Linked DNA regions of Homo sapiens. The protein of the gene in region 1 interacts with the protein of each later gene in a pairwise test. Each region holds a gene or a part of one and is shown on either strand. Other genes may lie near its edges. The genes, in order: LSAMP and DELE1.

Region 1 (3,934 bases):
GGGATTAATTCTCATGGAGGTGTTTCAAAGTCAATTTGACTCCTAAGAGTAGCACTTCAGACGCTCCCAGTCACTCCTGATGTATGATCTTTGGACTATAGATTGCTTATTTCTCATTTTCTTTCTATGTGTCCTGTGTAATGCAATAGGGCTTCTATAGAGATTCAGGAAACATTTCGTGAAGATCATAGCTCTCAGCAGTAATAGAAAACAAACTGCATTTTTGTAAGTAGAAATAACAGGTGGCTGTAGAAGGTACCTTAGTTCCTTCTACTGCTATGAGGTAGCATCTCATTAAAACTAACCCTTAAAGATAACCACTACTATGGAGACTTTGAAGAAAGAGCATATTTTCTAATGTTTTTGGTATCATAACCCAAGGTTGCACTGAAGTCTAACAATCATAAGTGTCTTAATTATTTATAGCATTTCAGTGGTAATTTATACTTATTTCTTTCAGTCCCTTAAGGGAAAAAAAGAAAAAGAAAAAAAAAACACGTTTACAGAATCTCTTTGCTTAGGTGGAGAAAATTCTTGTAAATACCACGTTCCTTTCTGTGACAGACGAGGCATTGTTAGAAGAGCTTCAAGTGATTTTTCAGTATTATTTCTGCCCTTCCCTTACATGATATTCATATCATTGGCTTCATTTTCTCTTTTATTCATGAAAACCTCCAAGAAGCAGTGCAGTCAACCACAAGATCACTGACAGGTCAATGAAGACACATCTCCTTTTCACGTTTATTTCATTTTGTTTTAAGATCACAGAAGAGCAGAGCATTCATACGTGTAAAGTAACAGAAGAGAGAAACAGAATTTAAATACATTTAAAAAGAAAAGAAAAAAAGCTTTTTTTCATTTTAATTTTAATTTTTTTTTTTTAACACACATTGCGCTTTTTATCTCCTTCACAGAGCTAGTACCCAGGGAAAAAAATCCACCTAATAAACAAAAATGAAAAACCTTGAAAAACAAAAAATCCCAAACAAAAAATGGCCATGTGTTTGTATCTTCAAGGGAAGATCAGTTCATGTCTACAGGGCTGAAAAAAGGAATATATTTATATATATATTTATATGTATATAACACTGTTAATAAGGAGAATTCTAACCAAGAGCAGGATTTATACACCCTTCAGTAGAGCAGTGATAAGGAAGGTGGGGAGCATTGGGAGATGGGGGAGGGAGTTGGAAGTGTTCTCTTTTGCTTCTCTCCCCCTGAATTTCTTCCCTTTAACCTCCCTACTCCAAGTAAATACTTAGGGAGCAGAACTTGGCCACAGTTCACCAGGATGAACAATTTCCATTCTCTGGTGAAGAGCAAAGACTTAGGGAAGTGGGTTCAAAAGAGGCTCCTGGTAGCTTGGGATTGCTGCAGCGTGCCATGAAGCTAGGACTTCCATGGGTTTTCTTCACTTGCAAGAAGCATATTTGTACTGTGCCTGGCTTTACATAGGGAGGATTGTGCAGAGTAGAATGTGGCTGTAGAAGTAGATCCAGGAGCACTGCCCAAAAAGAGGTACTTCTGAAATGACCATGAAAACGGGGAGTTGTCCCATGGACAGGTCATTCTCCCACTTAGAGAGAGCTTCATAAGTAATCTAAGCACATCATATATCCTTACCTACACAAAGTGATGTGATTGCTGGGAAGTGATGAACAAACCCTACTCTTCAGTGACTGGAAACTCTGATGCCTTCTGTTCTTTCAGACAATAAAATCAAAGGACAACTTTGGATAGATGCTAACCTGAGCCTCTAGGACAGCTTAGGACAAGAGGATCTGTGCTCAATGCATCTAGAACATGGCACAAGAAAATAATTCCTTATTAATTGCTTGAGAAATCATCCTTTCTGCTTACCCTTTTCTCAGAGAACCTAACTTTCACATTTGATTTTGGCCTTCACAACAATTCATACTGTCTTCAACTCTGTAACCTCCTAAATTGTGTTTATTTTTGTTTTATTTTCAGCTTGTCTTCTTTAAATAGAATTGACTTGTACTTTTTGAAAACAATACTTGTTTTCTCTCCATCTATTTGCTTTATTTCATAGCCTATAATTCAAGCTTTGGGAAACTTATCCCATGAGAAATTCCTTCCAAAACAAAATGTATTGTCTTGCCCATTTCTTACAGTTCAGCCTTTGAACCTGCCTGGGACCCCATGCTTACCGCCATCAGCACAAGCAAAGAGTTTCCAAAGACACACATTTACTGTAATGAGGTACTTGGCCCAGGATGACAGAAAACTAATGTTTCCTTTCTTATGCACAATGTCCTCATTTGTTACATGCATAATACCCAGTCTGGCTATTTTCCTTCCTATGAAAGATTATTAGAATATAGTTCCACATTTAGGTTTTATAATATAAACAAGGAAACAACCCCAGCTATGTCAATGTCCTTAGTGTAATTTGAATGTGTCCCTTCTCTACACTGCTATAAAGTTTTGATCAGAAAAAATTTACAGACCCAGTCCAGAGTCCCTGTATTCTAGCAGTTTTGGGTTTAGAAATGAAGACGGTAGAATGATAGTTCTGAGAAGTGATGAGAATACAGAGACCAAACTAGAGATAACAAACAGCTGCTGTTTACAAACAGTGCTGGGCACAGCACTAAGTGAATATTAAATTCTTATTCAGAATAAAGGTTAGAGTTGAAAGAGATTTTAGAGACGTCAGCCGAATCCCTCACTTTCAGGATGAGAAAACCAAGACTCAGGAAAGTTAAATGACTTGCCAATGTCTCACAGCTTTATTTGTGGCTGAACTTGGGGTTAGAACCCAATTCTCCTGACTCCCAATTCAATACACCTTCTACCTCACTTTAAAGTTGTCAGTTTATCTTAGATGATGAGGAAGCAGTACCAAGAAGACACTTGGGGGTTGATACAACAGGCACATGAGCCCTTAAAACTCCTTCCTGTTTTTTTTCTTTTTTTTTCTCTTAGGTAGATTAGTGCATTTAAAGCCTGAAGTTAATTTGACCTAAAATTTTTATAAGTCTTTGCAGAAAGTTCACTTGTTTCCTGAAATCATCTCCTTGATAATTTTTTATGTAACAGTTGTTCATATTGTAGGAATGATATATATGTCATCCTGTTACACGTGTCAGGCACTTCAAAAAGACTCCAAGAGAACATGCCTGAGAAAGATAACTCCCAATTAAAAATGATTCAGTCCCTCACTTGCAATATTCAGGATAAATGTGTGGAAACATTAGGCTACCAGATAAATAAAAGGTAGTTATTTCCTAGGGTGACTCAGCAAGATATTTCTCGAGGATATAACATTTTTTATATTGCACAATTTCTTAGAATCCAGATGGCAAGCTTTCCCACTGCTTTTGTTGAATGGAAAATAAAAACTGAGTAATATTTTGCTCATCAAGGTTTAGGTCACTTCCTTGGAGCTATTTAAATAAGACATCTTAGATGGTGAGAAAGGAGTAAAAAGAAGATAGCTGGGAGTGGATACAGCAGACATATAGCCCTTAAAACCTTTCCCTCTATTTCCCTTGCTTTGGGGTCGGGTGAGACAACTACAGCAACAGTTGGGACAATCTCCACTTAGATCCTGAAAGACCAAAGAGGTGACTTGAGCAGGATATAAACCTTGAACTGTTCCTGTGGGTCTGCTTCCTTTGGCTAAGGCAACCTCATATTTGGAGCTTTAGTCGTAATTCTTCCGATTCTGAACTGTGAAACGTTTCAGTTTTTATTTATTTTTATTTGATTTTTTTTTCCTTAAGAATCATAGTAAACCTTAGCAGTAGTTGGGCACTGCATGAAAAATGAAGTTTACATAGTTTATATTATGTACATAAACTAGTGATTTACATTGATTTACACATGATTGGTGCCTAATTTATTAATCAGCACGCAGCATGTAAATGTGCTCAAAAGAAATCAAGGTTTAAAATAAGTTTTCCATAAT
Region 2 (3,820 bases), on another chromosome or scaffold:
ACATATGTGTGGGGGGGGGCAGAGAGAGAGAGAGACTTAGATCACTCTATACTACTTTATAACCTATTTTTTTAACTTTAATAGTACACCATGAATGTCTTTCCCTGACATACAGATCTAGCACATCATTTTAAGGCCCAAATAGATGTAATTAACCAGTTTTCCATTGAAGAAACTTTCAGGTTTTTTTGGGTTTTTTTGCCTTCACATACAACTCTACGAAATACATTCTTATATATAACCTCTTTGTGTTCTTATCCCACTTTTTAAAAATTAATTAATCCATTCATCAAGATGCTATTCTAGGCTGAGGATGTAGTTGCAAAGAAGAAAGGCAAAATCCCTGCCCTCCCTGAATTTTGAGTCTAAATTCCTGGAAGTTAGGAGCTTCTTTCTTATTTTTCCTTCGCAGCTGGGCTAGAACCAAGTGGAGAAAAGAAGCCAAACTTTCCCCCATCCCTGCCCACTGCTCATTTCTAGACATCAATCTCAGCAGCCCAGCACAGAAGGCAGGCTTGGGGGCAGGGGAATACCTTGCTAATGTCCCTGGGGGTGCCTCTGCCATGCTCATGACACAAGCCCGCATTGTACTGCGCTTTGCTGTAGCCGCGGGCTGCAGCTTTCTGGAAGTAAGAAAAGGCTGCCGTGTGGTCGCCACTCTTCATGTTCTCTGTTCCTGTAAGAAGGCACAGGGCACAAACACAGCTTCCTCAGTGAACTTCCCCACACCCTCAGCCAGGTACCTACAGACTCCTCATCTGATCCTCCTCCCTTTCTTTTTTTGTGCCAGACACTTTACATATATATATATATATATATATATTTTTTTTTTTTTTTTTTGAGATGGAGTCTTGCTCTGTTGCCCAGGCTGGAATGCAGTGGCGCAATCTCAGCTCACTACAACCTCCACCTCCTGAGTTCAAACGATTCTCCTGCCTCAGCCTCCCAAGTAGCTGGGTTTACAGATGCCTGACCCCATGCCTGGCTAACTTTTGTATTTTTAGTAGAGATGGGGTTTCACCATGTTGGCCAGGCTTGTCTCAAACTCTTGATCTCAGGTGATCCACCTGCCTCGGCCTCCCAAAGTGTCGGGATTACAGGCGTGAGCCACTGTGCCTGGCCTTTGCATATATTTCTATCTTCTAAATATTTCACTGGTTTGCCATGGACAGCAGTGGGTTCTGCCCTACTATAAACCATTCCTCCTTCTCTTGGTAGTAGCATCTAGATTTCCCATTGGGAACAACACCTCCCCTAGTGCTGTCAATCAATGTGCTTGTGTTCTTCCTAACCACGGAGGTTCTTTCTCAGGAATCTGAACCTTGATCTGGTTGGGACAAGGAGAGAAAACAGCCCTTGTAGGTTTATTCTGACAGCAGCACTCTGAAGATACTATCAGCTGCTGCCTCTTAGGTCTCTGAAGCTTCCCTGATTCCTGTCCTTTCTGAGGCTTGGCAGGTCAATAGATCCCAATAGATTCCTTTTATGTTTAAGTTAGCCAGAGTGGGTTTAGGTTGCTCATAACCAACAAACCCTAACTGATACAAGTGATACTGTTAATCTTGTTTCATGAAGAAATTGGGAGCGGTAATACAGCAGTGTCAAGACCTGAATGCAGGCACATCCAACCCCAAAGTCCATGCTCTTTTCATTGCCCAAACAAAAAGGAAACAGGAAAGGATGAGGGCACGGCCAATTCTCAACTCAAGGCCTTTGCTTCAATTGTCTCTCCTGCCTGGGATCTTTCTTTCCGCCTCCACCATCAAAGCTCCCATCCTGTGTCTGCTCTAAACCTTCGGACCACACTCAGGCTTAAACACTTTTTTGGCACTTACTTAATATACCAAGCCTTTTTCTACAAACTAAACCGTTTCAAAAGTACAAGTCCTGTCTCCTCAATTAGACTGTAAAATCCTGGAGGCAGAAGCAGAAAAAGAATGTAGAAGAAATAATTTTGCCTAGGGTGAAGGCGCCATACAAATGCAAAACATGATTATGGCTTATGCTCCTTTCGCGTTCTGCCACCATGCCAAGCGCTTGCTGAATAAATGAATATATGAATGAAGGGATGGGCAAGTAAATTCTGAGAAGAGACTCTTTGCCCATCAAAATCACATAAAGCTCATGAGGGAGAAACCAGGTTCCATTCAGCCAGCAGTGAATTAAATAAAGTTGCCTCCTTGCTGCCTGAAAACTCACTGTCCAGGGTTGACAGAGCCCTCTGCCCTTGGGTAGAAGACTCAAGAGTGCAAAGGATCCCACCATCCTCCTCTTTCCCACCTGGCTCATTAATATAACCAGATCCATCTACTCTTCTTGCTCTCTTCTTTCTCTCATCTAGACCATGCCACTGACATGTTTTGTTCAGCCGTCACCAACAGCGCCTGCCTCGTCTCCTTTTTCCCCCCGGCAATCCTACAATCCATGTCTGTCTACATGGCAGCCAGAGAGATCTTTGGAAAAGTACATCAGATCATGTGGCTGCCCCCTTTCCTGCTCCTGCTTAAAGCCCTCCAAAGACTTCCTGTCTCACTTAGAAAATCCACACTCTTTACTGTGGCTCAGAAGACCTCACCTGATCTGACCCCTGCCTGCTTTTCTGGCTTTATCTCCTTCCGCCCTTCCCAAGATCTCTAAGCTCCAGCCACACTCACCTTTCTTTTGTTCCTCTAGCAATCAAAATCCAATCCTGCCTCAGGATTTTCGCGCTTACTGTTCCCGCCACTTGGAAAGCTCTTTCTCCAGATTGAAACAAAAGTGGCTGTCTTTGTGACAGGTCTTAGATCAAAGGTCTTCTGCTCAGTGAGGACTTCTAAATCAAAAACTGCTCCTTGCTCAAGTCACTAACACATTCCTTTATTTTCTTCATAACATCTATCAACATCTGAAATTCTCTTTTTGTTTCTCAATTATTGTTTTTCTGCTCCCTGAGAATAAGGACTTTGTCTTGTAAATCACTGTATCCCCAGTACCTAAAACAGGAACTGGCAAAAGGTAAATGCTCAACAAATTTGTTGTGAATGAATCCCAGCCTCTTGCCTATCTGCCCACTAGACCCCAATAGATGCTGTGGGGAGTCTGAGTCTCCGCATTAGAAGGCCTAAAATGAGCCAAGTTACTGCAAAGAACAGGGCAAATGGTGGAAGGGTATTTGGAGTCCCCACATGAGGGTTAAGAGGTTCCTGTTCACACATCGAGGATCTGCTCCAAACCCCAGGAGCCTGTTCTTTCCTAAGTGTGGCAGAGAATGCTACGTGCCCTCCAAGATTATTTTTTCCTTCATACACAGTAACTAGTCTCCTCTGTGGCGAGGTGTGGCCATGTGCCTATATTCTGGACAAGGATTTGTGCAACGTCTAGATTAAAGGGAAGGAGTGATCCTTTAGCTTCCCTACCTTGCCCCGACCAGCTGGCTAGAATACGGACAGGAGGGCAGGAGCTGGAATTGCCAAACTGCGCCTCAAGATGGGAGCCAGTTTTAAAAATGGCAGGACACATCTGCATAAGAATGGGTCCCTGCCATGCCAGATTTGGTCTACCTACCTGGGAGAAAATAAAATCTCTCGTTTAAGCCACTCCCTATCTTGACTATATCTGAGCTACCCCATACCCTTTCCATTTTCCCACCCTCCTGCCTTGGGGCAGGGTCCATTTGGTTACCCAGGAAGTTGAAAGCGATGGAAACACTGAGCTGGAAGAGCTGCTGAATGGAAGTCACAGCCTCCTCAAGGGAAAGAGTTTTTGATTTATCTTGTTCCTGGGAAAGAAATATAAAAGACTCACCAAGGGATGGTTTACCAGGATTGCCACCTGCCCAAGA

What was found.
Region 2: the proteins of LSAMP (region 1) and DELE1 interact in a two-hybrid assay, tested with the Homo sapiens proteins (one large-scale study listed by IntAct).

What each region holds. Positions count from the first base shown.
Region 1 is NC_000003.12:115,801,657-115,805,590, forward strand, and holds the end of LSAMP (limbic system-associated membrane protein isoform 1 preproprotein), read right to left. Parts: 3' UTR 718-3,934; downstream 1-717.
Region 2 is NC_000005.10:141,930,115-141,933,934, reverse strand, and holds part of DELE1 (death ligand signal enhancer precursor), read right to left. Parts: intron 3,758-3,820; coding exon 3,661-3,757; intron 2,985-3,660; coding exon of another isoform or gene 2,878-2,984; exon of another isoform or gene 2,655-2,877; intron 677-2,654; coding exon 534-676; intron 1-533.